Linked DNA regions of Homo sapiens: region 2 is reported to be linked to region 1. Evidence: microRNA targets listed by miRTarBase, many of them from high-throughput screens and not tested one by one. Region 1 holds a microRNA gene; the other region holds the end of a gene's coding sequence.

The links. The annotated mature microRNA hsa-miR-6515-5p reads UUGGAGGGUGUGGAAGACAUC and lies in region 1 at 834-854, shown strand. An mRNA with a match to its seed (bases 2 to 7 or 8) in the 3' UTR can be bound and repressed. Matches are read on the target gene's strand: a 7mer-m8 pairs with bases 2 to 8, a 7mer-A1 pairs with bases 2 to 7 and ends in A, and an 8mer does both.
Region 2: miRTarBase lists RAB6B as a target of hsa-miR-6515-5p. Seed matches in the 3' UTR shown: 7mer-m8 at 1,828-1,834.

What each region holds. Positions count from the first base shown.
Region 1 is chr19:12,939,653-12,943,450 of GRCh38, forward strand. MIR6515 (microRNA 6515) reads left to right here and starts at 832; the gene lies at 832-888. CALR (calreticulin) reads left to right here. Exons shown (of 9, transcript NM_004343.4): 4 at 401-495; 5 at 591-800; 6 at 889-1,002; 7 at 1,092-1,235. RefSeq lists enhancers at 1-4, 241-1,440, 777-1,404.
Region 2 is chr3:133,826,124-133,829,123 of GRCh38, reverse strand. RAB6B (RAB6B, member RAS oncogene family) reads left to right here. Exons shown (of 8, transcript NM_016577.4): 8 at 272-3,000. The coding sequence ends at 336. It also overlaps a transcript of SRPRB not described here. Among named protein-coding and RNA genes, the nearest start is that of SRPRB, 22 kb to the right of the region's middle.

The sequences.
Region 1 (3,798 bases):
CTGATCTCTGTCCCATTAGTTAGAGGGAGACCCAGACCCCATTGACTTTCTTAATAATGATTTTTTTTGGAAGGGGAGCTAAAAGAATAAGTCCCAGCAACAATTTATTGCATTATGATCGCAGATCTAGGCTGTTAATTTAATTTGCGTGTTTGTATATAGTTATTTCCCAATCTTACTAATGAGGATTTTGAGTTCTAGAGCACTGATTTTTTTTTTTTCTCCTTTAAACTTAAGGCTCCACCCACAGCCCATTCAGGACAGAATCAGGGTCTGAGTTTCTCTTCTCAGCCTTGACAGACCCGAGTTGAAGAACCAGGTCTTCCTTTTATAAAGAGGGGTGAGAGCCTCGAGATGATGGGTAGTCTCTGACTCTTAACTGGATCTGCTTCACACCTAGGTCCCGACATCTGTGGCCCTGGCACCAAGAAGGTTCATGTCATCTTCAACTACAAGGGCAAGAACGTGCTGATCAACAAGGACATCCGTTGCAAGGTGTGCCTGGGGGTGGTGGCAAATGGCTGTCATGGGGAGATTCAGAGGTCAGCCTCATTGGGGGGTGGCCCCCGCTCACCTTCTTCCTTCTTCAGGATGATGAGTTTACACACCTGTACACACTGATTGTGCGGCCAGACAACACCTATGAGGTGAAGATTGACAACAGCCAGGTGGAGTCCGGCTCCTTGGAAGACGATTGGGACTTCCTGCCACCCAAGAAGATAAAGGATCCTGATGCTTCAAAACCGGAAGACTGGGATGAGCGGGCCAAGATCGATGATCCCACAGACTCCAAGCCTGAGGTTGGTGTTTGGGCAGGGGCTCTGCTCTCCACATTGGAGGGTGTGGAAGACATCTGGGCCAACTCTGATCTCTTCATCTACCCCCCAGGACTGGGACAAGCCCGAGCATATCCCTGACCCTGATGCTAAGAAGCCCGAGGACTGGGATGAAGAGATGGACGGAGAGTGGGAACCCCCAGTGATTCAGAACCCTGAGTACAAGGTGAGTTTGGGGCTCTGAGCAGGGCTGGGGCTCACAGTGGGGAGTGCACCAACCTTACTCACCCTTCGGTTTCCTTCTCCCTTCTGCAGGGTGAGTGGAAGCCCCGGCAGATCGACAACCCAGATTACAAGGGCACTTGGATCCACCCAGAAATTGACAACCCCGAGTATTCTCCCGATCCCAGTATCTATGCCTATGATAACTTTGGCGTGCTGGGCCTGGACCTCTGGCAGGTGAGACTTGGAGGAAAAAGGAGGATCCCTGGGGTACCTCAAGTGCATAAGATCACCCAAGAGGAAAGGGACAGGGTAGGCACCCCAGGTGAGTCTGACTCAAAAATGGTACTTCTTGTAAACAGTACTTCCTGGTCTGTCCCTGTGAAGTCCTCACAGCAACCCCTTTAAGGTTATACTTGCTGTGCACCAAGTACTTCCCCAAGTACTTTTATGCAAATCAACTTCTTTACCCCCAAAGACCTAGAAGGTGGTCAGGTAACCCAGTTAGTTAGCTGGGGCTGGGCACAGTGGCTCACCCTTACAATCACGGTACTTTGGGAGGCTGAGACAGAGGATTGCTTGAGGCCAGGAGTTACACAACTCAACCTAGCTTGGCAACACAGCGAGGAGACCCTATCTCTACAAAAAAAATTTTTTTTTTTGAGACAGAGTTTCACTCTTGTTGCTGAGGCTGGAGTGCAATGGCACGATCTCAGCTCACTGCGCCCTCCGTCTCCTGGTTTCAAGCGATTCTCCTGCCTCAGCCTCCGGAGTAGCTGGGATTACAGGCATGTGCTACTATGGATGCCAGGCTAATTTTTTTTTTTTTTTTTTTTTTTGAGACCGTGCCTTGCTCTGTCGCCCAGGCTGGAGTGCAGTGGTGTGATCTCTGCTCACTGCAAGCTCCGCACGACCCCCCAGGTTCACTCCATTCTTCTGCCTCAGGGTCCCGAGTAACTGGGACTACAGGCACCCCCCACCATGCCTGGCTAATTTTTTTGTATTTTTTTTTTTAGTACAGACATGGTTTCACCGTGTTAGCCAGGATGGTCTCCATCTCCTGACCTCATGAACCACCCACCTTGGCCTCCCAAAGTGCTGGGATTACAGGCGTGAGCCACCTCACCCAGCCTTTTTGTAGAGACAGGGCTTCATGTTGCCCAGGTTGGTCTCGAACTCCTGGCCTCAGGTCATCTGCCCGCCTCGGCCTCCCAAAGTGCTGGGATTACAAGGGTTAGCCACCATGCCTAGCCTCTACAAAAACTTTAAAAATTGGCGAGATGTCATGCATACCTGTAGTCCCAACTACCAAGGAAGAAGGATGATCACTTGAGCCTGGGGCATCGAGGCTGCAGTGAGCCATGATTATGTCACTGCACTCCAGCCTCGGTGACAGAGTGAGACCCTCTCAAAAAAAGTTGGGACTTGGCCGGACACAGTGGCTCACACCTGTAATCCCAGCACTTTGGGAGGCCAAGGCGGGTGGATCACAAGGTCAGGAGATGGAGACCATCCTGGCTAACATGGTGAATGAAACCCCATCTCTAGTAAAAATACAAAAAATTTGCCAGGTGTGGTGGTGGGCGCCTGTAGTCCCAGCTACTCGGGAGGCTGAGGCAAAAGGATGACGTGAACCCGGGAGGCGGAGCTTGCAGTGAGCTGAGATCATGCCATTGCACTCCAGCCTGGGTGATAGCGAGACTCTGTCCCAAAAAAAAAAAAAAATGCTGGGACTGAATTTTTGTCTGTTTTGGTCACTGAAATACCTTCTGTGCCCAAGACAGTTCTGGCATGTAGTAGGTACCTGAAAAATACCTGAATAAGAGAGTGAGAAACAAGAAACAGGTGCAGAGAACTGAAGTCAGTGGCCCAAGGTCATGGGGGTAGGAAACCACAAAGCTGGGGTTTGAACCTGGGCAGTACAGCACCTGAGTCTCTCCATCTTTTTTTTTTTTTTTTTTTAAGACAGAGTCTTGCTCTGTCACCCAGGTTGGAGTGCAGTGGCTTGATCTCGGCTCACTGCAGCCTCTGCCTTCCAGGTTCAAGTGATTCTCATGCCTCATCCTCTCGAGCAGCTGGAATTACAGGCATGCGCCACGACGCTGGGCTTTTTTTTTTTTGAGATGGAATTTCACTCTTGTTGCCCAGGCTGGAGTGCAATGATGCAATCTCGGCGGCTCACCACAACCTCTGCATCCCAGATTCAAGCGATTCTCCTGCCTCGGCCTCCTGAGTAGCTGGGATTACAGGGATGCGCCATCACAGACCCCGGGCTAATTTTTTTTAGTAGAGACAGAGTTTCACTATGTTGCCCAGGTTGGTCTCGAACTCCTGGCCTCAAGTGATCCGTTCGCCATGACCTCCCAAAGTGCTGGGATTACAGGCATGAGCCCGTCCCGTCCCTGGCTGTCTCTCCATCTTTCCATCTTTTTTTTTTTTTTTTTTTTTTTTGGAGATGGAGTCTCACTCTGTCACCCAGGCTGGAGTGCAGTGGCACGATCTTGGCTCACTGCAAGCTCCGCCTCCTGGGTTCACATCATTCTCCTGTCTCAGCCTCCCAAATAGCTGGGACTACAGGCACTTGCCACCACGCCTGGCTGATTTTTTGTATTTTTAGTAGAGACGGGGTTTCACCGTGTTAGCCAGGGTGGTCTCGATCTCCTGACCTCGTGATCCGCCCACCTTGGCCTCTGGGCGAGGATTACAGGCGTGATCCACCTCACCTGGCCTCTCCATCTTTTTAACTGCAGTGTCAGCGGTGTTCCTTGTCTTCTCTGCAGATGCAGGCAGCAGAATATAG
Region 2 (3,000 bases), not on the chromosome of region 1:
ACTCCCTGGCCTTGGTATAGATGGTGATCCCACGGCCCAGGCAAGACAGGCTTTGCTTGGGTGGACAGGCGCTGGGGGAAGTGGACGGGTGAAGGGAAGAGGAGGCAAGGTGGAGTTGGTATTGCATCCTTCCTAGCCCAGCCAAACCAAGAGCCAAGTCCCTAGGTGTTTGCAGAGAAACAGAGCAGTAGCCAAAGGGTACAGTGCACAGGGCTAAGTGGGGTGGCAGCTTGTCCAGGAGAGTCATCTTCCTTAGCCCGTCCCCCTGCAGTGATCGACATCAAGCTGGACAAACCCCAGGAGCCCCCGGCCAGCGAGGGCGGCTGCTCCTGCTAATGCAGAGCCGACCTGTGGCTTCCCATGACACTCCTTGCTTGTTGTGTTGCTTCCTATTGGCTAGCTTCCTAAGGGGGGAGGGAACCGAGTTATCAAGATGGGAGGATTTTTCTTTTCTCTCTGTCTTTAGGAGTAGGGTGGGATGGGGAGGGAGGCTGGGCATCAGGGATCACATCACTCTTAACGGCTGTTACTTAAACAACTATTTTTTGGTTTGGTTGTAATATATTGTACTTTATTAAGATTGCCAAAAACTGTTAAAATTTAAAAAAAATTTAAATCATGTGTATACAATTTTTTGCCAGATAAAAATGTAGTCATTTTTATTTGAAAGATGTGCTTTTTGTTTTTGTATATTTGTAAACTTATAGAGAACCTTTTCCACACACCTCCTCCTTCCTGTTCTCTTTGAACCATTCATCACCTCTGCCTTCCTCCTATCCCCAGCCCAATAAATTAAAACAATTAACTGAGCAAATTAATTAGGCTTCAGTCTGGGGCCATCTGGCCCCACTCTCTAGGCCCTACTCCAGTTAAATCAAACATTGGTTGAACACATCAGCCTCTGAAAAGGTAGCTCTGACTCTTGTCTTTCCATGGCCAGAGTGGGTCGTCAACCTCGTGTGGAGCTGAGACCAAGGTCTGTGGGCTCTAGGCAGCCCGGCAGCAGCCCCCAGAGGAACTGCTCCCACCTCTCCTTCTCTTTCCCTGAAAAGCCTTGAAGGGGGTTGAGGGTACAGGCAACCTTGTGTTCTCTGTGCCCTCAGGGACTGGCAGAGCAAGAGGCCATCAGAAGGACGAGGTGCTGTTGGCAATTGCAGCTGCGTGGTGCGTGGTTTATAGACTGGGGTGCCATGTGTACTTCTGAAAATATTTTAACCAGCCCACCCAGCAGTCAGTACACATGCCTGGGCCAAGTCTAAGAAACTCAGTGTGTGATGTTGGGCAGTGTGCCATCCTGAAGCCTTCCTCCTGGATGTCAGGGAAGCTGGACCACCTGGAGTTGATCCTCTGTGATGGGGAGGCGGGGGGGGGGGGGGGTGTTGTCTGCAGAACCACCACCTTGAAAGATCCATGTTCTTAGAGCCTCAGCTGCTAATATTGTTGAGTGCTTTCTGGAAAAGCTGATTTGTTGCTATGTTTTCACCCCAGTGGCATGGCGCAGTTGAAGTCTTTGTGGACATATCTTTGTGGCTACTGTGGCTGCGCTGTGGTCACCTGAGGATGTGGTTCAGGTGGGGTCTCCAGAAGGCTGCTTGCCCCCAGAGAGCCATCTCTTCCATTTTTGATTCATTCCTGAGAATGGCTTAGTCCTGAGAATCTGCAAAGTCTCTGAAGAGAACTCTCTCTTCCCACTAAGTGATATAACCTACTTGGCCAGCATTCCAAATAGACTCAGACTCACTGCCCTGAGCCTGCACAGAGCCAGGTGCAATGGGCAGTGAGTCTGGCCAAAATGTAAACCCCACCCTCCCTGCTGTCATTGGCTCTCCCTCCAGGCTGCTGCTGGGCATGTCATAGATGGGATGAATGACCATCTGGGGTATGGTGGGCTGAACTCCACAAGGTCGTTGGAATGAATTTTGAAACTTCTCAGAAATTAATCTGAAATGGCAGGCAGTAAGTGCAGCAGAATCTGGCAGGACTGATATTTGTGCAGTGGGCCTGCCACACACCCTCTGCCTAGGAGGCTGTATGCCAGAGCTCATCTCTAGCAAGGAATTTATCTTCAGGTGAAGAAGAGAGGAAGCAGGATCCCACTGAGCACCTCTTGCAGAAGGCAAGGACCAATGTTTGAACGTGTTTCAGATGTCATGTGTTTAGTTTTTATATGTGTGTACATAATTATATATAGAGATAGACTTGTGTATACACCTTCCACAAACACATCCTCACGGAGATACATGTGCTCAATGTATATTCTTGTTTCTCCTGCTCTCAAGTTGGAACTTGCATTGTGATAAGTTTTGGAAATTCAAAAGTACTGCAACGTGTTGAAATAAGAAATACTTAATATTGTCAAATAACTTGTGATTGTCTTGCCATCAATAAAATAATGCATAGTTGTGTTAAACTACAGGCAAACATAGCCCACGGGAATATCTCCACCATTTCTCTATGTACTTTATATGCACGGGTGTGCATGCCTGTGTGGGCCAGTGTCCCCCCACCATGGGCACACCCCCAAGTGGTGCTTGTTGGAAGAGTGCTTACTTACCTCGAGAGAATTTACAGGAGTCCACATGACAGTGTCCTGCCTGGTTGGCAGCGGGGGCCATCACCTGTGGCCTCTGAGACCGCCCCATTTACAGGAATCTGCACTGGGTCTCAGTGAATGAACGTATGGTAGATTTTTATTTTCTTGGCACTAAAGATTAGCTTTTTTAAAAAAACATCCCATAAAACAGTAGAAACTCAGTTCCCTTCTCAGGGGCACACACATCCAAGGCACCGTGGACTGTGTTTCCATCCTGGCCTAGAGGAGCAGTAAAAGATAGCATTTGGTTTGACATGGCCTTAGTGAGTCCTGCCTTTCCTAGCATGCACACAACATCCTCTCTTTGAGTTTGGGTTCTCCCCAGCCCCTTGGCCTCTGAGGCTGAGGGTGGCTTCCTCCCATCCTCCCATCTCAGTGGTTCCATGGCGCTCCCTTCGGCACGTGCG